Regions from separate parts of the Homo sapiens genome. Here regions 1 and 2 are each linked to region 3. The links come from fine-mapping of genetic effects on gene expression. A gene starts in region 3. Each other region holds a variant in brackets. All regions are shown on one strand. Distances are between the middles of the regions. Region 1 overlaps LINC01237 (long intergenic non-protein coding RNA 1237). Region 2 overlaps LINC01881 (long intergenic non-protein coding RNA 1881). Region 3 holds the start of FAM240C (family with sequence similarity 240 member C).

Evidence for each region.
Region 1: its variant is fine-mapped to the expression of FAM240C in substantia nigra (GTEx, PIP above 0.99).
Region 2: its variant is fine-mapped to the expression of FAM240C in putamen (GTEx, PIP 0.97).

The regions. Positions count from the first base shown.
Region 1 is chr2:241,953,206-241,963,102 of GRCh38, forward strand. All of the region lies in intron 2 of LINC01237 (long intergenic non-protein coding RNA 1237), which reads left to right. Among named protein-coding and RNA genes, the nearest start is that of LINC01238, 13 kb to the right of the region's middle. The variant G/A (reference allele first, on the strand shown) is at 6,045.
Region 2 is chr2:242,159,861-242,169,757 of GRCh38, forward strand. It overlaps LINC01881 (long intergenic non-protein coding RNA 1881), which reads left to right. Exons shown (of 7, transcript NR_130702.1): 7 at 100-643. Among named protein-coding and RNA genes, the nearest start is that of LINC01881, 76 kb to the left of the region's middle. The variant T/C (reference allele first, on the strand shown) is at 6,128.
Region 3 is chr2:241,895,298-241,905,194 of GRCh38, forward strand. FAM240C (family with sequence similarity 240 member C) reads right to left here and starts at 5,167. Exons shown (of 3, transcript NM_001382368.1): 1 at 5,061-5,167; 2 at 1,889-2,037. The coding sequence starts at 5,072. All of the region lies in intron 2 of LINC01237 (long intergenic non-protein coding RNA 1237), which reads left to right. RefSeq lists enhancers at 4,638-5,282, 5,283-5,926, 5,927-6,572.

The DNA of each region.
Region 1 (9,897 bases), 58 kb after region 3:
GGGTGCGGGGGGCAGGCGAGGGAGAAGGGGGGAGAGGGAGGGGAAGGGGAGGGGGGAGGAGAGGGAGAAGGGAGGAACCGAGGGGACGGGGGGCTCAGCGCACGGGGGCATCTTCCAAATGGCCACATAAATGAGTGCAATTCCGGGTCCACCCGAAGGTGCGGGGGGAGGTTCCTCTCCCGGTTCCACCTCACACGGGATGCTGTTTCCCCGCACGCGGCTGCTCCTGGAGGGTGAGAAGGGGTTGCAGTGGTTCCGCTCAGGGCCAGGTGGGGCAGGAGGCCGGACCCCTGTCTTGGTGGACGCTCGGCCGCAGCCCTCTGTTGTGGCCTCAGCAGCGACTCCAACCGAATCTGTGGCCAGAGGCTGTGGGGAGTGGAAGCTGGAGGACCCAGGCTCGAGGGCGTCTGACCCAGGGAGCCCGCAGCAGGCAGGTCACCCCGACTTGTGGCCCCGTGATGCTGCAGGGACCCCAGCTGTGGGAAAAGCCACGCTACTGTCCCCCAGAGCAGAGGACCAAGTGCTCAGCTGCACAGCCCGGCCGGGGGTGCTCGGCCGCCGTGTCTGCAAAGGCCTGGAGCAGATGTACCCAGGCCCCAGGGAGGAGCCGGAGGTGCCCAGGCTGTGGGGAGGAGCCGGAGGTGCCCAGGCCGGGGGGAGGAGCCAGATGTGCCCAGGCCGGGGCTGTCCTGAGGTCTCCGCTGGCCCGTCGCTGTCCTCTCTCTCCTGTGCCGGGGTGGCTGCCCTGCAGGCTCCAGTGAATATAATTTTCTCTTGGCTTAGCTGCATCCTGCAGTTTTGATGTGTCTTTTCTTCATCACCATTTATTCAACACATATCCAAATTCTGCTATGATTTCTTTTGGCCACTGGATTATTTAGAAGCATATTCTTTAATTTCCAGGAAGTTTAGCATTTTTTAGTATTTTTTTTCACTTCTAAGTTTACTGAGGTCAGAAAATATGCTCTGAATTTTAAATTTAGATCCTTTGAAATTATTTGAGGCTTTCCCTATGTCCCAACATATGGAAATTTTGGTGAATGTTATGTGTACACTTAAGAAGAAGAGGAAGCAAGCCATTTTGGATACAAGGTCTGAGGCAGAACAATTGGGCCGCTCTAGTTGATTATGTTGCTCAGGTCTTCCTTATCCTGACTAATTTTATGTTATCCCAGTTACCGAGAAAGGCACGTGACAATTCCCCTATGCTTGTGGATTTTTCTCTTTGTATTTGGCTCTCATTACTCTTAGTAGGGTGCTCCAAGGTGGGATTTACATGTATCCCCCTTGGGATTTGCTGATCTTCATGAATCTGTGGATTAAGGTCTTCCAACAGTTTTCAAAGATTCCCACCCATTATCGTTTCAAATATTTCGTCTGTCCCATTAACTCTGATCTCTCTCTGGGATTATGCATATCTCAGACCTATTGACTATGTCTCATCTGTTATTTTTTTCCTTTCTGGATTTTCTATTTATTTTTTCCCATTCCTTTCATTTGAGTATTTTCTATTACTTCTGTTGAGGTAGTTTATAATGACTTGCATTTATGTTTACAAATTCTATCTTCTGCTGTGTTCAATTTTTATTAAACCCACCAATTTCATTCTTAATTTCAGATATCATACTTTTCAATTCAAGAACGTCTGTGTTATTATTTTAACGTTTCCATTTCTTTGTCGGAATCCCTCATTTTCCCATCTCTTGTGACTGAGCTCATTCATCACAGCTGTCTTTAAGGTCCTTCTCTGGCAACACCATTTTGGATCATCCGTGGGTCCCTTTCTGCTCTTTCTTTCCCTCTTTGTTATCAGTCACATGGTCTTTATTCTTGACACACTCTGGTCATGTGTACCGAATGCTGAAGCTGGTGAATTATCATAACAGCAGTGCCCTGGTGGTTCCAAGCCATGTTGTCTTTAAGCATAAAGTGCTCACCGTTTCCTCTTCTGAGGAATGGATTGAGGCCTGATCATTCTCGGTGGAGGATGGAGCCTGGTGAGAGTGAACTGCACTTTCTGTTGCACTGAGGCTCACCCAAGCTTGTCTTGCCCCTCGGGGTGGCTTCCCAGGGCTCCCAATCCAGAGCCTGGTGGCTCCCTGTCTCCCCAGTACTGGAACAAGCAGGACAGAGAGGCAGGTGCTCAAGGGAGGGAGACATGGGTGTTCAACGGGGAGAGACATGGGGGTGTGGAGGAGAGAGGTGTGAGTGTGAGATGTGGTCATGCACAGGAGGAGGCTGCCCTGCTGCAGGACAGGCATCCACCTCCTCTTGATCCTCCCCTTTCCAGGGAAGAATGGGATCGACATGTCCTCTTTCTAGGGATAGGAGGGGGTGGAAATCTTTTTGACGCTGCAGGAAGCTTAGAGTGGCCATCCCTTTGTTCGCCTGGGGTGAGGGTTTTTGCGGAAAGGAGACATCAAGTGTCTTGGTGTCCGATTGATTGGACACGCTATTGGCCTGTTATTTACAGTACTTCTTTACATCTACCCCTTAGGATCATTTTTCTCCTCCCCATGGGTACGTGTCCTCAACCTTGGCAAAATAAACTTTCTAAAGTAACTGAGACAGGTCTCACAGCCTCAGGAGGCCCTGATAACATGCTGAAGGCAGTCGGAGCACAGTTTGGTTTTATACATCGTAGACACGAGACATCAGTCAGCATATGTAAGATGAACATTGGTTTGATCTGGAAAGACGGGAAGACTGGAAGCAGGGAGGGGGCTTCCAGGTCATAGGTAGATAAGAGACAAATGGTTGCATTATTTGGAGTTTCTGATGAGCCTCTCCAAAGGAGGCAGTCAGATATGCATTTATCTCAGTGAGCAGAGGGGAGACTTTGAAGAGAATGGCAGGCAGATTGGCCCTAAGCAGTTCCCAGCTAGAATTTTCCCTTTAGCTTAGGAATTTGGGGGCCCAAGGTTTGTTTTCCTTTCACACCTGTTAGGCATTTGGGCTGTTTCTACCTTTCGTCGGCTGTGAATAATGCTGCCATGAACATATGTGTAACTTCTGCCATGAACATATGTGTACCTGCTGCCATGAACATATGTGTACCTGCTGCCATGAACATACGTGTATCTGCTGCCATGAACATATGTGTACCTGCTGCCATGAACATACGTGCACCTTCTGCTGTGAACATACATGTATCTGCCACCATGAACATATGTGTACCTGCTGCCATGAACATACGTGTATCTGCTGCCATGAACATGTGTACCTGCTGCCATGAACATGTGTACACACTTTGAGGCATGAGGAAGAACAGTGAGCAAACTGCTGAACCGTCTGCCTTCAGGGGCCACACATGACAAGCCTGACCCTAGACACCACCAGCAGTGCACACGTGAGGATGATGGGCAGACATGGCAGGGTCAGGGCGAGAGTGGCAGTGGAGGGCAGGGAGAGTGGCAGGGAAGCCTGTGAGGGGCAGATGTGGAGAAGGAAGGCAGGGGTCTGCAGCTCTTGGGGGGTGCCTAGGGGCACTCGATGTGAGGGGCAGCTAGGACGGGAGGTGGAGAGTGTCGAGGGAGCTGGCCCAGGCAGTGGATGTCATCAAAGACCCCCAGGAGCACAGGTAGGGCTCACCCAGGGCTGGCTGGGCAAGGGCCTGGCCACATTGTTTGTGTTGGACAGTGACTTGAAGGCAGCTGGGCTGGGGAGCTTCACAGTGGAACAGACAGCCCTGGCGTACCCTGGTGGAGGCTGTGGCTCTGGGGAGCGGGGGCGGCCTACGGGCTTGGTAATGGAGCACATGTGGCTTTCCCAGCTTGGTCTTGAGTTGAAAGGCGATGAGGAGTCCAACTCAGGAAGCCACAGTCATTGACCAAGTCCTGGCTGTCTGGGATACGGTAATGTGGCCCACAGCTTAGCGTCACTGCACTCCAGCCTGGGCGACAGGGTGAGATCCTGCATGTGAGTCTGTTCTTGCATTGCTATAAAGAAATACTGAGGCTGGGTAATTCATAAAGGAAAGAGATTTAATTGGCTCATGGTTCTGCAGGCTGTACAGGAAGCATAGTGCCAGCCTTTGCTTCTGGGGAGGCCTCAGGGAACTTCCAGTCATGGTGGAAGGCAGTGGGGAGGCAGGATTACGTGGTGAGAGCCGGAGGGTGGGTGGGAGCAGACTCTTAAACAACCGAAGCAGTGGGGAGGCAGGATTACATGGTGAGAGCCGGAAGGTGGAGGGAGCAGACTCTTAAACAACCGAAGCAGTGGGGAGGCAGGATTACGTGGTGAGAGCCAGAAGGTGGAGGGAGCAGACTCTTAAACAACCAGCTCTCCCGAGAACCAACCGAGCAGGAACTCACTCATCGCCCAGGCCGTGGTGCTAAGCCATTCACGAGGGATCTGCCCCCATGATCCAACACTTCCCACCAGGCCTCACCTCCAGCACTGGGGAGCACATTTCAACGTGAGATGTGGAGGGCACTCATCTAAACCGTATCACTCCGTCTCTAAAAAACAACAGGAGTTTATTCTCGCTTTTGGAGACCAGAAATCTGAGATCAAAATGTTGGTGGCCTCACTCCCTTCCCAGGCTTGAGGAGAGAAGCCTTCCTGCCTCTCTTAGCTCCTGGTGTCCCGAGGTGTCCCTGGGCCTGTGTTTTTGTGCCTGCATTGCTCCCATCTCTGCCTCTGTTCATGTGCCCTCTCCACTTTCCTCTCTCTTCTCCTGTTCTGTCTGTGCCAATATCCCTCTTCCTTTCTCTTATAAGGACACCAGTCAGTAGATTTAGGGTCCACCAGGGCAACCCAGTGTGATCTCATCTCAACATCCTTCACTTAATTACATCTGCAATGACCTGATTTCCAAATAAGGTCACATTCACAAGTACTGAGGTGTATTAGCGCGTTCTCATGGTGCTATGAAGAAATACCCAAGACTGGGTAACTTATAAGGAAAAGAGGTTTAATTGACTCACAGTTCTGCATGGCTGGAGAGGCCTCAGGAAACTTACAATCATGGCAGAAGAGGAAGCAAGCATGTCCTTCTTCATATGGCGGCAAGAAGGAGAAGTGCCCAGCAAAAGGAGGAAAAGCCCCTTATAAAATCATCAGATCCATTAGGCATGGTGGCTCAGGCCTGTAATCCCAGCACTTTGTGAGGCTGAGGTGGGCAGATCACAAGGTCAGGAGTTTGAGACCAGCCTGGCCAACAAGGTGACACCCTGTCTCTACTAAGAGTACAAAAATTAGCCAGGCATGGTGGCGTGCACCTGTAATCCCAGCTACTTGGGAGGCTGAGGCAGAAGAGTCACTTGAACCCAGGAGGTGGAGGTTGCAGTGAGCCGAGATTGTGCCACTGCACTCCAGCCTGGGTGACAGAGCGAGACTCCGTCTCAAAAAAACAAAAACAAAACAAAAAAGACCCATCAGATCTCATGAGAACTCATTCACTATCATGAGAACAGCATGGGGGAACCACCCCATGATTCAATCACTTCTCATGACACACGAGGATTATGGGAACTACAGTTCAAGATGAGATTTGGGTGGGGACCTAGCTAAGCCATATAGGGTTAGGACTTAGACATATTTTTGGAAGACATAATTCAACTCACTACTCCAGTCTTCCCTAACTCGGCTATATATCAGACCCTCTTGGGGATCTTATAAAGGTTACATGTTATTATAATTTCTGTTCCAGAATCCCAGTAGGTTGCTCGGTGCCTGGTTCTGACGCTATCCCTCAGAGCCTGTGGAAGTTGCTGATGCCAGGATGCAGTTGCTCTCCTAAAGCAGAGTGGGAGATCCTGAGGAAGGGAGCCTCCTGCTTGTGCGTCTGCGGTAAGAACGGCTGCACAGACGCACGGGAGATATGAGGAAGGGAGCCTCCTGCTTGTGCGTCTGTGGTAAGAGCGGCTGCACAGACGCTCTGAAAGTCCTTATGCCTCTGTGTTGTTCCAAATAAACTCACTTATCCTGAGAGCCGCTCCCTTTGCTGCTCAGGATGGCACAATCTGGTGCCAGAAATAGGACCAGAAGGAAGATGGCCTTCAGAAGGAAGTGACAATTCTTGGAACTGCTGTGTAGTGCCC[G/A]CCTGAGGCCTCTGAGCTCTTCCTTTCTGCGGCCCACCTCTTCTGCCACGTGCATCTTCTCCCAGGCTGAGAGCCCTCCTTCCGGCAGAAGCTTGACTTCGCTCGGGATCTGCCTTGGACCAGGCCACCTTAATATAGGACCTTGCGTCCGTCCTGGGACCCTGTGAGGCCGGGTTGTCCTTTCTGGTCCTGGGGAGTGCTCTGGTTTGTTTGTTTCTGTGCGTCCATAAGTGATTAAGTGATTTGGCTTTTTTTACTTCTGCTCTCCCTGCTTGTTTCAAAACATCTTTAAAGAGCAAATATCACATACAGCGGTTATATGAATTTCTTTTTGCTCTCAAAAGTGCAGTAGGAGACAGAATGGGATTCTCAAAGTGTAAGGCACGCCCGGCTTTCGGGGGCTCAGCTGGTCGTACATTCAAACATTGTGGCCCTTTGTGCACATTTTAAGCCCATGGACAGATGACACCAAGGGTGATTTAGAATTCCAGTGGCCATTTGAGAATCATTCCAACTCCCCAGACTGGTTTCCTAGAACTATATTAGAAAATTGCAGCTATTGGGTTAAACAGTCTGAATGAGGCGCGTATTTTTAGTTGCCATCTTGAGGCTTCAAAGTGCATTCAGGACTTTAAAAAGGCCTCGTTGCAAAATACTGTCTCCACACCAGCCAAGGCACCTCCTTCCCAGAGCCCTTCCTTCCCCTTCCCACAGCACATCCTCCTCCTCCTTCTCTGGCTGACCTCCCCACCCCCTTTATTCAGAGCTCCCCAGCTTTTCTCCACAAACACCAATTCATCTTTTAACACATGGAACCTCTAGGGAAGTTCTAGATGAAGGAGATAAAGTAATTAAATATGCTATTCTGGCATATTGACAATTTAGTTAGAATCACTTGAAAAACAGCAGGCTTGCTTCTTTTTCAAAGCTACCCATGCTGATTGCAGACATAAAAAAATGTTTTCTCCCCACTATTCCTTAATGGGCTCTACCCTGAAGTTAGCAATCTAATCAAGAAACAAGCAAAGTTGAAAAGACTGTCTATCAAACTAAACACTTTCTGGCATTTAGCTGGCTATTTTGAAACTGTTTTGTAAAAACTCACGTCTATAAAGGAAAACAGCTTTTGGCTTCCAGAGGCAAAAACTATGAGAATAAATGAGTGAAGTAAGATGTAATTAGGATTCCCCTGCTGCCATCTCTGTGCTGGTAAGAGTTGTGTCCAGTTAAGAAAATTAATATCCTTCTTTAGATGGAAGGAAAAATAGAGCCCTTCCTCTGCTACTTCTTCATTGCTTTTAGCAGAAAAGAATATTTGTGTTAAAGAAGCATCATCTGGAATGGTCCTTCCTGACTCCTTCAATGGCCAGTTTTGATTAAGAAGGAATTAAAGCATAATTGTAGGTGAATGTAAATGACTTTAAAGTTCATCAACTTTTCAATGATAGTTGTTTTATAAACTGTGTCTACTTAAAATGAAGTCCAAACATATTTTGGGGGAAACTTGAAGCCTTAACGTGAACTTATAGATATTCATAAAATGAGTCATTTTCAAATAAGATAAAACCCACTGCTACAACTATAATTAAAACAAAACCAAAAAACACACTGATTTCAAAGCTGCCTGGAGGTTTTTTATTCTCACCAGCCCTAGCTGAAATGTAAACATCCAAGAAATTAACTTCTACACCCATCGGAGACCATAAATAGGGGGGAAGGAAGCAAGCAAGCAAGGAAGGAAGGAAGGAAGGAAGGAAAGGCAGCCTTCTTATCTTCAAGGATGAGAAGCTGAAGCAGACAGAACATTGTACAGACCTTGTTAGATAACTCGTATGTTTTAAGCCCCCTGGAATGATTTAGTGAATTGATAACGGCCTCTCTGGGGTCTTCATTTCCATACGGGGGCTCCCATGCTATGTAAAACCTGTATGATGCTTCTCTCCTGCTAGTCTATCTAGCGTCCAACTGGGACGCTAAAGGCTGGGATATCCCACTTTGTCCTCTCCCCGGAACCTGCAGGTGGGATTCCAGGACACCTGACACAGGGCAGAGGCAGGAATTCTTCCCAAAGTCAGCTCTCTCACGCCACTACCTGGAATGCCTGGTTGAGAAGGTAAAAGGTTTTCTTGTCCCTTTTTAAATTTGGATCGAAAGGAGAACATTGTAAGAAGTGGTTCTTTAAATGGTGACTCTTGTGAATTTGGTGCTGGGTGCCCGTTGCTTTTTGGCCACAGCTTCCCAGAAATAGCCGCTGTTTTCTTTGTCTCTGCCTTTTGTGGGGTTTGCCCTAAGGCCTGTTTTCTGTCTTGAGAACTTGGTCATAACCAGTGAGGATGCTGTCTCCGGTCTCTGCCCACTGGGAGATCCGAGTTGCTAGGCATGCTTCTGATGGCGGTCACCGGCCAGGACCGAAACATGAAGTGTCTCTGTTCGACCACATCTGCTCTCAGGAACTTACCTTAACCGCCTCACCATGGTTACCTTGTTACCAGTGAGCATCTTTACTTCCTTAGCCTATCTTCAAGAGAAATTTTGGATCCTGAAGGGGGCTACATCCTTTGCATCCTTTCTGGGGACCTCTTGCATCCATGGTTAAGCCATACAGGGCTTACTAGTTTTGAATCACAGCGGAAGTAGGTTTACTTTTGGTTTGGAAGTTGGTTAATATTTGGAGCATTATAGGAACTTTTTGTTTGTTTGATCTTCTGTCCTAAGCTAAAATGGAACTAGAAGGGAGGAAAGAAAGACTTCAATACCACCGGGAATGTTTACTGTTGTCCTGGTTAAAAGCTGATAATAAGATATTTGAAAAGGGACTTTCTTTAGAGCTCCCTGATGAGAAGTCAGGCTAACTGGAAGCTGATGCTCAGGCTATAACTCGTGGTGGCTCTGTGTTTTCTCTGCCAGACTCTGCTTCTCCCCCTGGGAACTTCTCAGCCAGCCGAGCCATCCTTTCCCAGCACTGCTGACTGTGTGCTGTGCACATTTTTTGATTGGCGTGATTCTTGACTGTTTACAAATGGAGCAAATAAAAGATCTTTAAGGTCTTTCCTACTTAGTAAGAGGCATTGTTTAAATTGACTTAGAAATAAATGAGCATACCTACAACTGTAAAAAAAAAAAATAGGAACTAACCCAAATGTTTTTAAAGTTCACTTGACCTGGGGTAAACTTTGGTGAATAAAGGTGAGTTTAGATTTGCCGGTTTGATAAAAGCAGGTGTCTTCAGAGTCCTCAGCGTTAAAGATGATGCAGACACGCAACTTTCATCTCTGCTAAATGTTTAATTGTAAAGCATGAGTCTGACCTAAAAACAAGTGTGCCCGCAGAAGTGAGGCGGCACGCCCGTTACTCCTCACGCAGGAAGCGCAGCAATGAAACAAAACGCCGTGCGTTTAACGCTTCGGTTTCTTGATTTTGAGATGACCGCCTGACAGTCACATGCTGTAAAAATGGTTAATAGGAAAACACCTCAAGATGATGGATGCTTAATATCTCAGGAAGTTTCTCAGGAGTAACACAGACAAGTTAAAATACTAAAACATTAATCGCTGAACATAAGTGTAAGCTTATTCCTGGCTTCGAAAGTTCTGTGGAAAGATAAAATTTGTTTGGGTCTATTAGAAAACATTGTGTCTTGTTCTACATTGAGAAATTGTTCTATGAGGAAGCACGTTTCTGAAAAATTATAAAATATGTATTCATAAAATGTTATCATATAACAGTTCAAAATTGCTTACTTCCTAGGTTCCACTAAAAATTAAGGGCACTAAGATTTAAAAATTCTAATTAATGTGTGTAACTCTATATACAAAGTATGAAAAATAATGATACAATTTTTGGTATTTTTGGT
Region 2 (9,897 bases), 260 kb after region 3:
TTCCCTTTGGCTTAGTGAGTCTGGGGTCCCAGGATTTATTTTCCGTTCTCACAGGTTGTGGTCCTCACATTTGGCTCAAAATATTCAAATTTTTTCCAGAGTTTGGCCTTTTCTTCAGCACTGGGAATTGTGATCCAAAGCTTTTCCTGATGAAGCACAAAGTTGGAGAAAAAAAAGCAAACTAAACAACAACAATGAAACAGAACAGAGTTAATCTGCTGTAGCTCAAGAGAGGATGTACCTGCCCCCACCCCGCATCCCTGGGCTCGGGTTTGCCTTGCTGACCTCTGCTGCCACCTGGTGCCACACAGAGAAACTGAGGAGAAACCACATCAGTCTCCTTCAGCCTCAGCTTCACATCTGTGGGTCAAGTAACCCTTTCAGAAGCTGAATAATGTGGGAAAGCTTTCCTCTCAGGAAAATGCACACATCCAACTTTGAGAAGATGCCCTTGGGGGTGCTTCAAGGATCCTAGATAAAGAACCCCCTTTCCCGAACATCCAAGAACCTAAGTTTTTTTTTTTTTTTTTGAGAAAGTCTCGCTCTCTCTCCCAGTCTGGAGTGCAGTGGCGTGATCTTGGCTCACTGCAAGCTCCACCTCCCAGGTTCACGCCATTCTCCTGCCTCAGCCTCCCGAGTAGCTGGGGCTACAGGCACCTGCCACCAAACCCGGCTAATTTTTTTGTATTTTTAGTAGAGACGGGGTTTCACCGTGTTAGCCAGGATCGTCTTGATCTCCTGACCTTGTGATCCACCCGCCTCGGCCTCCCAAATTGCTGGGATTACAGATGTGAGCCACCGCACCTGGTCCAAGAACCCAAGTTTTAGATCTAGAGTGATGTCAGCATGACATTGATTTCCTGAGGCCCAGGGTCGAAGGAGCTGAGGACAGCAGAGGGGTGAAGGAACTCAGCTACAGACAGCAGCAGCTGATGCACAGGGCTCCCAGCGCCTGAAGTCACCCGGAATTGGGAAGTGCTCAGAAGCTTACAAAGCTGCCTCGAGGTGGGAACATGACATAAATCCAAGAGCAGATCCCTGATCCTATAAAAATGTACTAGATGCAGTGGGGGCATTTTAAATGAGCAGAGAAGGACAGACAGATAAACAGAAGGACAAACAGTATTGGGATTGGGATAAATGCTCAGCTTTTGCCCAAATCTTAGTGACTTAAGCATCACTTATTTGCTCACGATTCTGTGGCTGGACCATTTGGTTTGGCTCACAGGGCAGGGACTGTGCTGGTCTTACCTGAGCAGACCTGCATGTCTGCGGTCAACTGGGTTGGCAGAGACAGAGTGACTGTCTTCCTCCAGGAAGCAGCAGGTTAACTGGTTGGCAGAGACAGAGGGACAGAGGGACTGTCTTCCTCCAGGAAGCAGCAGGTTAACTGGTTGGCAGAGACAGAGGGACAGAGGGGCTGTCTTCCTCCAGGAAGCAGCAGGTTAACTGGTTGGCAGAGACAGAGGGACTGAGGGACTGTCTTCCTCCAGGAAGCAGCAGGTTAACTGGTTGGCAGAGACAGAGGGACAGAGGGACTGTCTTCCTCCAGGAAGCAGCAGGTTAACTGGTTGGCAGAGACAGAGGGACTGAGGGACTGTCTTCCTCCAGGAAGCAGCAGGTTAACTGGTTGGCAGAGACAGAGGGACAGAGGGACTGTCTTCCTCCAGGAAGCAGCAGGTTAACTGGTTGGCAGAGACAGAGGGACTGAGGGACTGTCTTCCTCCAGGAAGCAGCAGGTTAACTGGTTGGCAGAGACAGAGGGACTGAGGGACTGTCTCCCCCCAGGAAGCAGCAGGTTGGCTCTGTTTCCTTCGTGGGGCAGCTGGTCTCCAGGGCAGCAAGAGAGACCAAGCCCCAGTGCACATTCTACAGCCTCTGTGCACATCAGACTTGTTAATATCCCATTGGCCAGTGTAAGTCACATGGCCAAGCCCAGATTAAGGAGTGGAAAGATGGAGGCTATCTCCTCCTGGGAGAGGAGGCCAAGGAGGTGGGAGTATTATGTGGCCACTTATGTTTGCAATCTACCATACTTAGCACTTTGAGAAAAGAATTAACTGAGAAACTTGCTTCAAATAGGGCATTCAGTAAAATGAAGCCCCAATTGAAGTAAAATGCATATATAAAAAATGAAACTGTGACCGATTTTAAGGACAGTATTGGCAAATATTTCTGTGCTCTTGGAGGAGAAGACCCTTATTGGCATGACATGTCAGAAACCACAATGAAAGAATTATTTTAACTTGCATTCATAAAAATTAAAATTATTCATTAAAAACATCGTGAATGAAATTAAAAGTCAAAATGTAAGCCAGAAAATTATTTACAATGTATGTGTCAGGAAAAGACAATACCCTTCAAACTTTGAGAGTTTACATCAGAAAGAAAACAGCAAATGACATGATCCAAACTTGATAAAGGACATGAAAAAGAGCCAGCACTTAGTATGTTTTCTGAATGAATAAGTAGCCAACAGCACATGAAAATGCGTGTAATCCATTTGTAAGCAGAGAAATGCAAACTAAAACAGTAAAGTGTCATTTTCATTTCCTGGATTGGCAAAGGGTTTTATGTATTTTACTGATAGTGCTCAATATTAGCAGTAAACAACAAATGGTGAGTAAATATGAGCTTCGGAACCTCAGGGAAATGATCTCCTTATTTCAACCTGTAGATTCCTTCCTACAACCAGTGTCTACAGAGCACCTACTATGTGCCAGGCACAGCCTAAGTCCTGAAGGTGTAGTCTCCACTGAGAAGGTGATATTTGCACAAAGACCTGAAAGACAGGAGTGAACTGTGTGGATAACTGTGGGTACCCCTACAGGCAGAGGAGTAGCAATGTGGGTCCCAAGGTGGGACCACATCAGACATGTTCGAGGACTAGCTGAGGGAGAGAGGTGGGAGGTCAGAGGAGATGGGGGCCGGCTCTGCTGGCCGTCACGAGCACTCTGGGTGCAGAGGGCGAGAGGTGGGAGGTCAGAGGAGATGGGGGCCGGCTTTGCTGGCCAACACGAGCACTCTGGGTGCTGAGGGCGAGAGGTGGGAGGTCAGAGGAGATGGGGGCTGGCTCTGCTGGCCGTCACGAGCACTCTGGGTGCAGAGGGCGAGAGGTGGGAGGTCAGAGGAGATGGGGGCCGGCTTTGCTGGCCAACACGAGCACTCTGGGTGCTGAGGGCAAGAGGTGGGGAGGAGGTCAGAGGAGATGGGGGCTGGCTCTGCCGGCCAACACGAGCACTCTGGGTTTTCCTCCAAATGCTATGAGAGCAGAGGAGTAACCTGGTCTGACTTGGGTGTGAGCAGATCTCTCTGGTTGTTGTTCTGGAAAAAACTGAGGTGCCCACGTGAAAGCAGAGATCGGTTAGGAGGCTGCTGCAGCAATTCAGGCAAAAATGGGTGGCGGGCCTCGGGTGTAGTGGAGGAGAAGCGATCGGATTTTGGATATTTGTAGCTCCCCCAATACGATTTCCTGGAGAAGGAGATGACTTCAGTCTTCTGGCCTGAGTAGCTGAAAGGATGAAGCTGTCCTTCGTGGAGGTGGGGAATCCACAGAGAAGCGGGTAGGGAGAGAGTATCAGGAGCTCAGTGTTAGCCATGGATGTTCGAGGGGAGGTATTGAGCAGCTGATAGAGACACAGGCCTGTGGTCCCAGGAAAAGGTCTGGGGGTCACTAGCCCATGGATGGAGTCACAGGCTGCATAGACTGCAGGAAAGCGAAGGTGGAGAGAGAAGAGCAGAGTACCAGGATGGACCATTGAGCACCCTGGTGTTGAGAGCAAGTGGCCTCTAGTCAGAGTTGGGTCAGGGCCACTGTGAGTGGGCTGCCCCCAACATGAGTCGGCTGTCTAGGACTAGTTTATCTCTGCTTCTCACTTTACTGGTATTATGGGGCAGCTCCTGCTGTCTTCCAATTTGGTGTTTGTAAAATGAGACATAAAAAGCAGGTGACAAGGATACCAGGAAGTGCACAGGTCTGAGTGGAGTATGGGGCTGTCTCCAGGGGAGAGGTGGCTGTTTGGAGGGAAGGGTGACAATGGATAATCAGGGTCCATGGGCATCCCTGCTTGTTTTGGAGCCATGGACACTCAAATAATGTGATTTTATGAGGCTATTGGAGAAAAAATTGGCCACAGGGCCAAGAGGGCTGGGAGGACCCCAGCTCTCCGACTGGTGTTTGCTTCTCTGCCATCAGGGTCGGGAGGCCATGCCAAGCATTGTGATTTGCAGAGTCCATGAGACAGGAACACTCCCACCACAGTGACCTGCCTCTGCACACAGCCAGAATGTAGCTGACTCCTTTCTTCTCCCACTTGCATGCTTCCAAGCCTTCAAAACATACTCATCTCCATGTTCTGTGAATTAGCAATTTTTAAAAAAATAAAAAAATAAACAAACTCATCTCTGAAGGTCCAGGTGATTTTTATGTTTTACAGAAAGTTTTGTGAAGAGATGACAGAAAGGGTTATATCACATCCACACAGCAATAACTCCTCAAAAGCAACTTTTGGCCGGGTGTGGTGGCTCATGCCTGCAATCCCAGCACTTTCAGGGGCCGAGGCGGGAGGATCGCTTGTGCTTAGGAGTTTGAGACTAGCCTGGGCAACATAGCAAGTCCCTGTCTCTACTTAAAAAAGAAAAAAAAAATGAGCCAGATGTGGTGGCACGCAGCTGTAGTCCCAGCTACATGGAAGACTGAGGTGGTAGGATCACTTGAGCCAGGAGGTTGAGGCTACAGTGAGCCATGATCACACCACTGCACTCCACCCTGGGTGACAGAGTGAGACCCTGTCTCAAACTTTTTTAAAAGGCCAGGCATGGTGGCTCATACCCATAATCCCAGTACTTTGGGAGGCCAAGGTGGGTGGATCACTTGAGCCCAGGAATTTGAGACCAGCCTGGGCAACATGGTGAAACCCCATCTCTACTAAAAGTCAAAAAAATTAGGTAGGTGTGTTGGTATACATTTGTAGTCTTGGCTCCTTGGAAGGCTGATGTGGGAGGATTGCTTAAGCCTAGGAGGTCGAGGCTACAGTGAGCCATGATTGCACCGTTGCATTCCAGCCTGGGCAAGAGTGAAACCCTGTCTCTCTCTGTCTCTGTCTGTCTCTCTCTCTCTCTGTCTCTTTCTCTCTCTCTGTGTCTCTCTCTCTCTCTCTCACACACACACACACACAACTTATAAGCATCTCTTGTTTCTCCTAAAATTACCCTTCTAGCATTAGCTGTCCCATTAAAATTCTAATAGGCTTTTTTGTGGACATCTGCAAATTAATTATAAAATTTATATGGAAATGCAAAGGGCCAAGTAAGGGCCCTTAAAAGGGACAAAAATGGGAGAAATTACTAGATACCATGGCTCACCATAAAAGCTGCCTTGATTAAGACAGTGTGGCAGTGGTCAGCAAACAGTGGTCTGCCCCTGGGCCAACTCTGCCCACCATCTGTTTCTGTATGGCCCATGAAGCAAGAATGATTTTTACATTTTTAAATGGTTGAAAATAATTGATTGGTGGGGACAATGCTGGTGGAGTCTGAAGTTGTCATGCAGTGACTCACTCAAGGTTAGGCAGATTTGGTGATATATGACACAGAGATGCAAAGAAATGCTGTAGCTGACACACACAGGGTGGCTCTGGGAGATGCAGAAGGAGCATGTCACCCAAAATAGAGCCAGATAGACATCTTTAAGGAAGGAGCAAAGGGGCTGCATCTTAAAGAATGAAGAAGGGATTTGTCATGAGAGATGGGGCAGGAAGTTCTTGAGAGGCAGAGGGAGAGCATGAGAATGCTGGGAAGGGAGGAGAGATTCTCACACATCTGGGAAGCTGACAATTCATCAGCATGTCCGGAAGGAAAATAAGGAGGAGGAGCAGAAATAGATGAGGCTGGATATAGAAGCAGGGCTGAAGCTGTGTTGATCGTGGTAAAGAGTTGTGATTCTATCCAGAAGGCAATAGGTAGCATTCTAAACAGAGATCTCTTAAAACAAGAGTCAGCAAATATTTTCTGCAAAGGGCTAAATGTTAAATATTTTAAGTTTTCCAAGCCATATGGTCTCTCTCTTAATGACTCAGGTCTTCCATTATACCATGAAAGTAACCAGAGACGTTTTTTAACACATGTA[T/C]TGGCTGTGTCCCATTACAACTTTACTTACAAACGCAGACTGTGTCAGACCTGGTCCATGCATGGTAGTTTGCCACACCCTGTTTTAGAAAGCTCAGGTTTATGATGTGATGGAGAATGCCTACAAGAGCTCTTGTTTTAAATGGTAGAGTGAATATACACTGGAATTCTATCCTGCTTGACCCAAGCTCTTGATAGCGAAAGGTAGAAAAGATAGATAGTAAATAGATAGATAGATGATAGGCAGGTAGATAGATAGATGATAGATAAAGAAAATACATAGCTGTTCCAGAAAACAGAAATGGATAATTTCATGAACCAAAAGCAGAGTAATATACTTTAGAAAGGAAGCAGGCTGGAAGACCCACAGTTGCAAAGCAAATAGAATTTCCAACTGCCTCTTGTAGCCCCTTCCTGGAAGTAGTCACAGCCCAGGGTGTTCAACTTCTTCCTCTGTTTTTTGTTTGTTTGTTGTTTGCTTTTCTGTGGGGTTTTTGTTGTTGTTGTTTGCTTTTTAAAAAAAATCCCTTTCCCTGCTTTTTTGTCACAGCAGCCTTTGTCACTTCAAACACCGCAAGTGTTCTTTAAAAAAAATTATATCAACCTTTCAACTAAAATGCAACATGTCTGAAACTTGGTATCTGGAGAGGTGAGAGGGACAAAGGAGCCGTTGTTACTGCACGTTTTCATTCTCCAAACTTCACCTTGCACACAGTAACAGACAATGCACAAAGCTACTTCCTTATGGACGGAAATTCTGAAATCCTTTTATGCCTGGCCTTTCCATCCTTCAACTTCCCCTCTCCCATGCTGTGAGTGATTGTATTGGACATTTTTGTTTTAATCTCAGTGACAGGGGAACACAGATAGCTCTAATATAGCTGTGACCCAGATGCTTCTGTTTCTAGCATGTATTAATTTTGCAGCAAACATTACATCCATAATTTTTCACTGTCCTTTGAAAATAATTAGGCAATATCTCATCTGAGGTAGGATGTTTCTAGGGGTTGTGTTCTGAGTGAGAAAAACTAATCTGTTCTCTTTCCACTGCATTCTAGGAACAGTAAGAGGACCTTGTGCATGAATAATTTGTTTCCACACTGCAGAGTGGGTAATAAGCAGATTAGTAAAAACAATTCTGCTTCACTTCAATAACAGCCTCCTCCAACTCATTTTTTCTCAACAAACTTATTTTTGCAGCAGAAGAATCCCAGACTTCTTAGAGAACCCAGTGACTTTTTGCACCTTAAATCTGTGAAATCCTCATGCTTTCTTCTGCCGTATCCATCGTTCAAACAAACATGAGGCAAAGCTAGACACATTCCTGAAGGAACCCAAGAAATTCCTCTCTTTCTCTCTCTGGAATGAAATGAATTCTCTAGACCACCAGTTCTAACCTTCAAAAACCAAACCTGTTTGTGAGATCTCCTTCAAATACTACTGTAGACCCCAGTGTTTATTCATTAAATTTTTTAAATATTTGTTTTATTTGGAATCAAAGTATTTGTAATTTTAGTATTTGTATTAATATAAGGGAGAAATGTTTAAATCTGTCTATGCCATATGTGCCTTCGGCTTATTGCCCAATTAATTGTAGCCTCAGGCTAAACTTTGGTTTCTGTCTTTAATTTTTGTCGGAAGAAATATAACCGGTCTCAAAACATCTGCTTTTATTGTAGGGACTCGTGCTGCCATCTCCATTCCTCTCTCTTTTCTTGCAATCTGGGTGGAAGTTCTTTAATATGAACATTTCAACCACCTTCACTCTACCATGTCCACTATCAGCACATTCAAACGTATCCAGCCAAGGGTATCATCTTAGGCCAGGGATTTTTTAGGAATCTATTTTGCTGTGATGCACCTGGTACCCCTTTGACTCACTTTATCACCCCAGGGTTCTTTTCATTTTAGAAGCCCAAGAGGGCAGAAAAAGAAGTAGGTGAGCAATTAAACTCTCCAAGTCAGGAGCGTCTCCCCTTGTGTTAAGCAATGTTGTAGAACATCGTATTTAGCAAGCTCCTAGCAGATGAGCCACGTGGCTGCTGAGCACACACGCCTGCTTGCTGCTGTGAGCTCAGACACCATCATTATGTCTTTTTCACCTCTGGAGGGAATTGTAAGCGCCACTTAATAACCTGTAAATCGTAGAGAGTTAAAGGTGTTTCCCTAAAACACTGATGACAGAATGAAAGGTAAGGAGTGTTAGCCACAGGTCAAAAGTGCAGGAAAGTCTCTCTATGTGGGTTGTTGAAGAAATGCAGGTCTTTTTTCTTTTGGAAGTCTCCCTAGAATGGGGTCAAGGACTCTGCCCATTCTAGGATGAAAAACTGGGATATTAGACACCCTCAGATATTTATCCCAAGCTTTCATTTTGGGCTCTTAATTAGTTCATCCATCACAATCGCAAATGCTAAGCAGGGCAGTTGAATCTGTCTACAGTCCAAATCAGCACCTTCTTTTAAAGTTGAGTTTCTTATTATTCTCACCTGATATACCTTATTTATCCCACACCCACCCCAATAACATATCGTGCTCACTGTTATCTTTAAGAAAACACTTGAATTTAACTCAGCCTGGAGCTCTCTTCACATGTCTTGTCCAGATCCAGTTCGGACTCATTCTTCAGCCGTGCATCAGTCAATGGGGGCTAGGTTAAACTGTGGTGACAAACAACCTCCAAATTTCAGTGGCTCAAAAATCTTCTTCCTCATTTATTTACATTTCATCATGGGTCAGGTGAGAGGTAGCTCTGTGCTGTGTCATCCTAACACAGGAATCCAGACGGAAGGAGGGACGATCAATAAGATCCCCATTGCTATAGAAAAGAGAAAAAAGTATGTGGAATAGCACTCTGTTTCTTGGAGATTTCTCCTGAAAAAGTCACATGTTATTTCTTCTCACCTCCATTGGCAAAAAAAAAAAGTCATGTGGCCATGTGAAAATGTAAGTAGGCGGGATGGAACAGTCAGAATGCATTCATAAAATATGAACTGAAAATATCTGGAGAACAGCACCTATGACTACAACGAATGCCAACATGCATCCCTAACAACCCAGTGCTGTCACCCTCCAAACTTTTTATGTCTTGCAAAGTATTAGAACTTCTTATCTGAAGCCATACCACTCAGAGGGAATGCAAAATACATATTGACATCTCCTTTAGGATGTCCTTAGAGAATTCATGGAAAAGAAGTTAAATAATTTAAAAGTGCTTTTGGGTACAGCTATTTAGCACTAGAGGGTAAGATTAGACATAGATTGTAAAGATAATAATAGGGTTAGGGATAGGATTAGGATCTGGGTCAGAGTCAGGGCCAGAAGTATGGTTAGAGGTGGGGTCATGGTCAGGGTCGAGATCAAAGTCAGGGTCAAAGTAAGGGTCAGAATTAGGGACCAGGATAGGGATCAGGATTTAGGTTCAGTGTCAAAGTCTTGGGACAAGGTTAGGGTTAGAATTAGAACCAGAGCTTTGTTCTCCTCAGGACCCACCCGAGGGTGGGTCACCATGGCTTTGGAGCACCTGGTAGTGTGGCGTGTCCACAGTGAAGACCAGAGTTTCATTGTCCTTAAGACTGACCTGGGAGACGTGGCTGCAGGCCATTGAGGAAGGTGAGGCAACAGCTTCCTGTCTGCTCCCCGTGTGCTGAGGAGGGAGCTCTGCCATGGGCTTTACTTTCACATGTTATATTCCACAAGTCTTGTTTTACAAAAGCATCCCTTCCTTGAGGCTTCGGCTGCTCATCGCTGCTCATCATCATAGCGTGCCATAAC
Region 3 (9,897 bases):
CCCACAGACTTGGCGCCTCCGGGCCTGGAGTCCTCGGCCCTCACAGCCGGCCGCCCATCCCAGAGAGGCTGCCAGGACAGCCAGCCCCATGGTGGTGGAAGCAGCGGCCCCTGTCCCTTTACAGGGGACCGTGGGGTCCCGAGCCAGGGGCTGCGAATGGCCGGTCTCCCACATGGGCCAGCTCCTCTCTCACGGCGGCTTCCTGGGGTGGGCCTGGCCCTTGGGCTCACACCAGCACACGGGACCCTCTCAGCTCTCTGGGCTTCATGCGGGGAGGAAAGTTAGGCTACTCTCTAACGGGAACCCTAAGAGTGACCTCCTTAAAAGCAGTGGTTGGCCTCGTGGCCTGGGGAGAACCGGGCTGTGTGGGTGGATGGAGGGGGGTTGTGCAAATGGAGGCTCTGCCAGCCCCTGAGAGAACGCTGGTGCCTGCCTTGGACACCAACCTCCACCTCAGGGGCCAGAGAAGGCAGCGTGGACACACAGTCCCGGGGCCTGAGCCCACTCCTGGGATCTGCACCCAGGCAATGGCCAGAGGACACCAGGGCACATGGCACATGCAGGCACACGCAGAGGCACGCGGAGGCACGTAGGCACACACAGGCACACGTCCAGGAAGCACAGGGCGGGGATGAGGCAGGGCCCGTGGGGCAAGCACTCGGTGGTGGGGGGGGGCCTCTCCTTCACCATCGTCTGCCGAGTGCCTGCGTGGTGCTGGGCTCTGTGCTGGGTCCATGTCCGTAGTTGGGTAGCTGGTGAGTGGGGAGGGGCACCCCCAGGCTCTGTGGGACCGCCTCGGGCTGCTGAAGGGGTACCACGGCTCTCTTGCTCGGGGCCTGAGCACCGAGGGCTGCCTGGAGCCTCTGGAAGCTCCTGCTGTGTGCCGGCCAGTGTCTTGCAGCAAATGAGCTCTGCTCCCCACCCAGCTGTCCCTGAGCAGTGGCTACACCCTGGGTCGGCTCAGGGTCACCCACTCAGCACCCATAGACCCCTGGCCTTGGCCCTAGGAGAGAAAGGCGTGCTGGCTTGGTATCTGCCTTCCTGAGCAAGTCTGCTAGGAGGAGGAAGGGCACAAGTACAGATACGTCACTCAAGGGCAGTGATCTCAGAAAAACAAGCCAGAGAAAGACATTTCCTCCTGGAAAAGTTCCTGTGATCCTGGACGGAGTGTCAGGGAGATGGCGGGGGAAGGGGGTGTGGGTGAAGGGGGTGTGGGTGTTGGGGTGTGGGTGTTGGGGTGTGGGTGTTGGGGTGTGTGTGTTGGGGTGTGGGTGTGGGGGTGTGGGTGTTGGGGTGTGGGTGAAGGGGTGTGGGTGTGGGGGTGTGGGTGTTGGGGTGTGGGTGAAGGGGTGTGGGTGAAGGGGTGTGGGTGTTGGGGTGTGGGTGAAGGGGTGTGGGTGTTGGGGTGTGGGTGTTGGGGGTGTGTGTGTTGGGGTGTGGGTGAAGGGGTGTGGGTGTTGGGGTGTGGGTGTTGGGGTGTGGGTGAAGGGGGTGTGGGTGTTGGGGTGTGGGTGTGTGGGTGTGGGGGTGTGGGTGTTGGGGTGTGGGTGAAGGGGTGTGGGTGTGGGGGTGGGGGTGAATTGTCCGTGGGCATTGGGGTGTGGTGTTGCCTGGATAGTGATGTTTGATCTGAGCTCCTGGTCTCACGGTTAGCAACGTGGTGTCTTGTCATTTCCCACCTACTGTTCCAAGCGTGATCACTAAGGTGAGTGAATGGCTGTCAGTTTCCTCCTGGGTTGACTCCTTTCACAGGCCTGGAGCTGAGGGGTTTCATGGTGGGCTGAGGGCCAGGGCTGTGTCAGGGCACACTGCTGGCGGGGCTGTGCCCCTGGGTGGCGAGCGTGGCTCAGGCATAGGGGTCCCCGATGCACTGCACACCCCGACTCACTTGTTCAGAGCGCTTCTGCGAACCCTGATGTCCTCGTTCTGCAGGTGTCTTGCGTGATGCTCGATTTTTTTCTCCCAAAACATCTTTATCCCGCCTGAATCGTATGCTACTCTTCCAGGATTCTTAAGAGTGAGGCTTTTACTCATGTTCTGGAAAATAAAAAGTGGAGAAGAGCTCAGTCACCTTATGCCATTCCCATTGACGAGTTTGTGCTCCAGCACCCGGATGGCAGAGGAGCTGGCTCAGCCTGCAGCATCGTGGTCCCCGCCTTCCTGGTTCGTGGGGGATGGCGGAGGCTGCCCTCTGAGACTCAGGCCTCAGGTGGCTCCTGACCGGCTCCTAAACGCTCTACCGGCTCCACCTTCTGGAGCAGTCTCCTGGGTTGGCAGAAGTAGAAATGGAGGGCAAATTCCATTTTGGGCTTTTAGTCATTTTAAAATCTAAGCAATGATGCACTTCTAACTCTCTGTGTGTTAGTGTGGGTGATCTGCAGTCCCACCAGCGAGGTGAGCGTTTCTTGGATGGGGCTGTGGCTTCTGTGCCAGGTGAGTCCATCCCTTGTTTTTGAGACAGGGTCTCATTCCCATCACCCAGGCTGCAATGCAGTGGTGCGATCTCCCCTCACTGCAGCCTTGACCGCCTGAACTCAAGTGATTGTCCCACCTCAGCTTCCTGAGTAGCTGGGACTATAGGTGTGCACCACCATGCCCAGCTAATTTTTGTATATCTTGTAGAGATTGGGTCTCACTATGTTGCCCAGGCCGGTCTTGAGCTCCTGGGCTCAAGCAGTCTTCCTGGCTCAGCCTCCCAAAGTGCTGGGACTACAGGTGTGAGCCAGCGTGCCCAGCTCAGTTGGCCTCTCTCGACACCTGGTTATTGGGTACCTTTTGGTTTGAAATATGTAAACCCAGCAGTGGGGTTAAATGTGGCAGGTTACACTGAAAAACTTCAGCTCTGCTATTTGATGTAATATGCTAAAGTGAGGCTGACTGAAATGTTTACTTTCCAATTATTTTGGACTCGTGCATCTACGGGACACCAGCAATCTTAGAATATCAATCTACAGCCATCAAGAATGTCCAAGGCCGGGCGTGGTGGCTCACGCCTGTAATCCCAGCACTTTGGGAGGTCAAGGCTGGCAGATCACTTGAGCTCAGGAGTTAAGAGACCAGCCTGGCCAACATGGTGAAACCCTGTCTCTACTAAAAATACAAAAATTAGCCGGGATTGGTGGTGGGTGCCTGTAATCCTAGCTACTCTGGAGGCTGAGGCAGGAGAATCGCTTGAACCCGGGAGGTGGAGGTTGCAGTGAGATGAGATTGCAGCACTGCACTCCAGCCTGGGTGACAGACTCCGTCTCAAACAAACAAACAAACAAACAAACAAAAAAAGAATGTCCGTGACAAAGGGAAAGTGTCGACAGCAGCAGCCCCTTTTCTGGAGCCCTCCTCCCGATTTCACCCAGCAGTGGGAGCCCGGCTCTGGGTCAGCTCTCCCTGGGACGCGTGGAGCCTGGGTCCCTGGGCTGTGCCTGCCCTGGCCTGGCTCCAGGTCTCCGTAGATGGCCCTGCTCTGTGCTTGAGGATGGGGTTTACACAAGGGAGCCAGGGCCACGTTTCGGGGTGCAAGGCGGTGGGTCTCGGAATGAATGAGGCATCCACTGTTCTGGGGCTGCCTGAGCCCCTAAGCCGCTGTCCGGCCAGCTCCTCGGGGCCTATGGGGTGGGCAGAGCCATTTCTGCAGCCCTGGCTGGCTCCCTTGGGGCACTTTGTTCTTCAGCTTGGCCTTGCTTGGCCTTGGAGGCATTTCTCTTTCCCCGCCCCCCACTCTTCTCTCTTGCTGGGGAAGAACACAGGGTGGCAGGAGCGCGGCCCGAGAGGAAAACCAGGCAGCTGAGACCCGCGGGCTCGTTTCCTGCAAACACATCACCTGCTTCAGGTGGAGAGGGTAAGGGTGCCTTCTGGAGCTCGGCTCAGGTTGCAATGAACAGGTGCTGGGGACTCCTTCGAGGAGCTTGATGTGACCCCTGGCTGGGGGCTTCCAGCTGCAGAGGCGCGGGCGCTGTGGCCTGCGCAGCCTGTTGTGATGTGGGTGCTGGGCGCTTTGCTGGGGAGCTGCCCCTGGAGGGCCACAGAAATCGCCCATCGATGCCACGCCCTTTGTTCCAGAAACTTAGACATGCAAAGTTGATCATGAAGGGACTGAACTCAGCCACGCCTGCCTGTGCTGAGGACGCTGGCGCGAATTCAGTGAGTGAAAACTCATCCAATGAGGAGGGTGGGATGCACGGAACCCACCAGTCAGGGCCGGGCCCAGCTGCTTCCCCGGAACTTCGCACCTCCTCTGGTGTCTGGGCAGACGCCTCCCGGAGTGAAGCTGGGGCTGGTGTCAGATTCAAACCGAGTAACAGCTGGAAAACATCTGACAGCTGAGACCTGGCTGTTCTTGGCAGGGGCTTCAGAGAGCAGCGTGGGCGTTAGAGCTTCTGCTCTTAGGACACTTAGCCCCCAAAGGCAGCCCTTTAAACCCTCATGGGACAAAAACAAACCAGCAGCAAAAGGGAGAACCAGCAAACCAGCAGACAGAAGAAACAGACACGCGGCCGGGCGCGGTGGCTCAGGCCTGGAATCCCAGCACTGTGGGAGGCCGAGGCGGGCGGATCACGAGGTCAGGAGATCCAGACCAGCCTGACTAACACGGTGAAACCCCGTCTTCACTAAAAATACAAAAAATTAGCCGGGCGTCGTGGTGGGCGCCTGTAGTCCCAGCTACTCGGAAGGCTAAGGCAGGAGAATGGCGTGAACCCGGGAGGCGGAGGTTGCAGTGAGCCGCGATCATGCCACTGCACTCCAGCCTGGGCGACAGAGCGAGACTCCATCTCATAAACAACAACAACAGCAACAAAACAAAACAACAATGACAACAACAGACACACAAAGGGGTGCGTGTTGTGAGGCAGGTGATGGAGACACTCTCCCCCCACCAAAGGTGTTGACAGCAGGAATCCCAGTGGGAAAACAAAATTACAAAGTTCAGTTCCCCCAGCGAAATGCGGGTGGGCTCACGTCTTGTGCCAGATATGTCACATACTCTGTTCACCTTTTGGGGGCCCCCAAATGCAGCGCCAATCTCTCAAGCAAGGACAGCGCCTGTCACATCACAGAGAGCTTACTTTTCCAACCATTTCTCAGTGACGGGCAGGTTTTCCTGTCTCTGTTGAGGGTCCTCAGCCTGTCCTCTCCGGGGTGCACGCCTGTATCTCGCCTGCCGCTCTCTGTTACATGGGCTCAGTGACACGCATGCTTGGCGTCGGTTCAGTCCCAGAAAGACGCGCTGCCCTCTGTCTGGGCACCGTCCCTGGCAGAGCTGTCCGTCCGGAGGGCAGCTGTTGGCAGCATGGGAATCTGGAGGACGGCCAGCTGGGCCTCCTCTGCCCTCAGCCCCCATCGGGACTGTTTTTTTCTTCTTTCGACGGCTGCTCCCAGGAAACCTTGTGGGTGGGAGGGAGCATTGTCTGGGGAGGGGCGTCGGGGCACCTAGGAGTCCTGGGTTTTGCCCAGGCCTGCGTCTCAGGAATGGTGGCCTTTGCACTTACTGCAGGCGAAATGTATATCACAAAACGACGATGCAGACACACTCAAGGCAGGTGTGGAAATGCTTAGGGTCTCTCTGCCCCACCCATACATGGGTTTACGTATTTATTGTGAGGAGCTGGCTCTCGCGGTGACAGGCGCTGAGAGGTCTCGGGATCTGCCATCTGGGACCCAGGAAAGCCTGCGGTGTCAGTCAACCCGACTCTGAGGGAGGTTGGTGTAAATTCCAGACCTTGGTCCAGAGACGGTGAGATGAGGCGTCCTGGAGCAAGCAGGAAGGAAGGCAGGCGAGCAGGAGCGATTCCTCCTTCCTCCACCGCGGCACCTTCAGGCCGTCAGAGGATTGGATGACGCCCAGCACACGGGGGTCACCGCGTCCGGAAACACCCTCCCAGCCGCACCCAGAAACACTGTCCCAGCCGCCGCCCTGGTGCCATCAGGTAGATGCACAAAGTGAAGCCCCCAGGCTTTGTCCTGGACGGGGTTCCTCTCCCAGGATCCATCCCTCCAGGCCTCAGGGAGCCGGCAGCAGGGCCGGCCCAGGGCCAGCCTCCGTGATCTCGTTTCAGTCTCCCGGGTCACTTGCTTCTTTATGAGGTTTCCAAGTCATTGATAGTTTCAGGTGAAAGCTTTTGGGAAATTTTCGTTTACTATCATAAAGCAGACGGTACACTTATTTTTTATATTATCCTTCACAGTTGTTTTTTTTTAAACTGGAGTTCTGTGGGTGTCATCAGTGGATTGGGAGCTGTTCGTGATTTCCCGAGTCCTGGCGTGTGCTCAGGACACCTTGATCTGTGGCTCCCTGCGAACTGGGGTTAGGCCTCAGGACGCGCCGGGACATGCCGCAGCGCACAGAATGCACAAGGTGGAAAGACGGTGCTCAGGCAGCGCGGGTGGAAGACGCCGGTGAGAACCAGCAGCTGCTTCAGAAAAACCGCTGCGTGCAGCACCGATGGGAGGAAGCCACCTAAAAACGGAAAGGAATAGCCCCAGGAGAGGCGTCTCCAGCAGGACTGCGTTTTTGTAAAGCCCGTGGTGGTCTCCCCAGGTCCTATGCGCGAGCGCCCCGGGGATTCCCCACCTGCCCTGGAGCCGAGAGGCCAAACCAACCAGCAATCACAACACCGGCCTACACTTCAAAACTTGTCCTTCCAGGCCCCTTCCTTCTGACGTGTGTGCGGAGGGACGGCAGGGCGCCACCGTGCTGGCCGTGCCTGATGGAGCAGCAAGGCGGCAGGGAGCGCATTCTGATCTCCCCGTGTTTCGGAGTTTGTAGGTCAAGTGTGCACTATCTGCAGTCAGCCAGAGCGGAGGAGGAATTTGGGAGAATGCATTTGCCGCAGGCTGAGGCGTTTGCGTTTCTTCCTCTTTCCTGAGCTATCCCAGTGCAGTGGGCTCCAGACAACCCTGTAGCACCACGGAGGTTCTGAGTGGACTTTCCTGCACCCGCCACCCCCACCCCATCAGAGGCGGTCGTCCAGGCTGCCGGGCTCCAGCTACCGGGCTCAGCCGCCTTCCAGCCCAGGAGTCCCGCCTGCCGCCTCCCCTCCGCCGCCGCCTCCCCTCCGCCGCCGCCTCCCCTCCGCCGCCGCCTCCCCTCCGCCGCCGCCTCCCCTCCGCCGCCGCCTCCCCTCCGCCGCCGCCTCCCCTCCGCCTGCCAGCCCGGAACGCCGCCTCCAAGCCTCCTGTGCCAGCCCCGTCCTGCGCCCCTGTACCTGGGCTCTGTGACGGTGAAGCCGGCGTCCTCACAGTCGCAGCAGCAGCACAGGCTGAGCCTTCCCCGTGTGCGGCATCACCCAGCTCTGTCCTTCGTGCCTCCCGGGAGCCCAGGGAGTCGGGGCCACCGGACGCTGGACCTGAGAACCTGGACCCAGGCCCGGTCTGCCCGGGAGTTGGCAAGTGCTGAGCACTGTGTCCCCTTGCACGGCCACTCGGGGCCTCCACGCACCTAAAGGACAGCTCCTGAAGCATCCTGGCCCTGCACTCACGGTGGCACGCGGGCGCCGTCCCCGAGCCCAGGGGCCAGGCCCAGGGCCCTTCCCCGAAATCTGCCATGAAGGTGAACTCGGTTACACTCAGGCCCAGGGCTCCCGAGGCTGGTGGCGGCTGCTCCGCATGAGGCCTGCTGGCTCCCAGGGGCCGCCCTCCCTTGAGAAGGGGGTGCCCACTACGGCTGGGCCATCTGCAAGGGGCCCGGTGATCACATTATGGAGTCATTTTTGAACTGGGTTCTATTAACTACTAATTAGTGAGCCACAGTCATGACATCCTTTGTAAGGAAAAATGTTCCTAACTGAAGCGCTCGCCCATGTCCGCGGTGAGACGCCTGCATGGGGCGGTCTCTGCTTCTCCCCAAGGACCCTCCTCGCCGCCCGCTCGGCTGCACCGGCAGATGGTGGCAGGGGACAAGGACGGCGCGGTGGGCCCCGCGCCCAGCTCACCGCGAGTGCTGCTCCCTTCACAAAACGCTAGAGAGACCAGCACCCTCCTTGCCCCGCCCCTGCTTGGGGCCTCTCTGTGCTTGGAGAGGAGGCCCAGGCTTCCTCCTCTTCCTGGAGCGGGCGTGAGGAGGGGTCTGCAGGCTCTGTCTCCCGGACAGAGCAGCCTGGAAAGTCCCGTGCTCCGGGGACGCCTGTCTTTGACTCTGTTCTCCTGGGCCGCAAGGCTGAGGCCCGAGTGCGGAGGCTGCACCTGCTCAGCTCCACTGTGACCTCTTGGTGCCGGGGACACGCCTGCCCCCGCGCACATTGCCGCCCGGCCCACCTCCTGTCTGAGCCCTCTCAGCAGACAAGGTCCTTGGTGCCTGGAGTCATCAGGACAGATGGTGGAGCCCAAGTCCCTGTGTGGGGAGGGGAGGAGCAAGTCCTAGTGTAGGGAAGGGGTGAGTCCCAGCGTGGTGAGGGGGTGTCTTTCCCGTCCATGGTGCCCCGTCGAAGCTCCACACACTGGACAGGCCACAAGTTCTCATGGGACTCGGGCCCATGCCTGGCCCAGTGTGGACGCCCTACTGAAGCGGCATCCCAGGCCCCAGCAGCTCAGACTCCCCCCAGCTGCCCTCCCCATGCCCAGCTTGATGGGTACACAGTGTTGCCCGCTAGTGTCCACGCCCTCCCGAGGGGTCCCTGGGCTACAGCAATGTTTGGTCTGAGTGAATGAGCCATGGGGGAACAGACGCCCCTGTAGCTGCAGACCCCCTGCCACAAAGCACAAGGTGGCAGGGGGTGTCCCAGAAGGCCCCGCAGAGAAGGCAGCTTCGCACCAACCTCGTGAGGCCTTGGGGGTCAGCAGCTGGGCCAGGAGCTGACCTGGGAGGCAGGGAGGCAGGGATTACCTCTGGAGCCATATCTGGGGCTGGGACTTTGCCTGAGCCAGGTGTTCTAGGAATGCACTTTAGCTGCAGAGTCCTTATCCATCTGGCTCAGCGCTGGGGAGGGCAACAGGGAGTGGTGGGGTCTGTGGCAAAGTGAGGTGCCGCCATGTCCACGGGCGGCTGGTGCTGAGCTCACAGCTGCTCTGGGCAAACTTTTTCCATAGATGCCTCAAATCTGAATTTTTAGGAAGCATATCCAGATTTTAAGGTGTTGACTAACTACTATTTCACCTAAAAAAAAGCCACTGAGCCGGCTCCCCCATGTGGGCCGGACACAGCATTGTACTAGAATCCCAGCAGCGAGGGGGATCCCGCACTTCCTGGGGGCCTGCGGGGGCTGCAGTGGGTGTCTGGGATTCCAGGGTGGGGGCGAAACCCTGCTTTTGAGGAGCCCTCAGATGGGGGCGGGGAGGGAGCCATTCAGGGACGTCCTCCATCGCAGCAGGCAGGAGCTGAGTGGCTGCTGGGAAGGGTGAAGACATTCTCCTCTACACTCAGGAGGCACACGGGGCTCTCAGATTAGACGGCACCGAGTGGGAAGGTGGTGGTTTCATGATCAATTTCCTGACCAGAGCCACCTGCAGAGGAATCTTTTTCCTGAATACCATATTTTCTAAGCTATTAGGAGCACAGCTTGGCAATGACTGAGGGTGTCTGGACGGTGAGGTGTGCGCTGGGAAGCCTTGAGGTGCCGTCTGGTCTGGCGTGCCCCAAGGACACATGTGGGGAGGGTGCCAGGCCCTGAGTCTGTGGGTGTTGTCAGGAGGTGGCCCCTCTTTTCCTGGTTCTTTGCCTGCTGGTGCTGGTCTGTGAATGCCCTCGGGGCCTCCTCCTGGAAGAGCCTCTTCCCTGGGCCCGCTGAGCTGCAGAGGCTGCAGGTGCGTCTCTGCATGTGGCTGCGCTTTGTGGGCTGTGTCCTTTCTCCTGCTGGCTGGGATTGGCTGCTGAGGCGCCAATCCTTCCTCTGCCCAGATGTGGCTTGGTTCCGTTGGAGTCCAGTGTCAGAGGGCTGAGTTGGATGTTTCTAGATCAGCTGTGTCCAC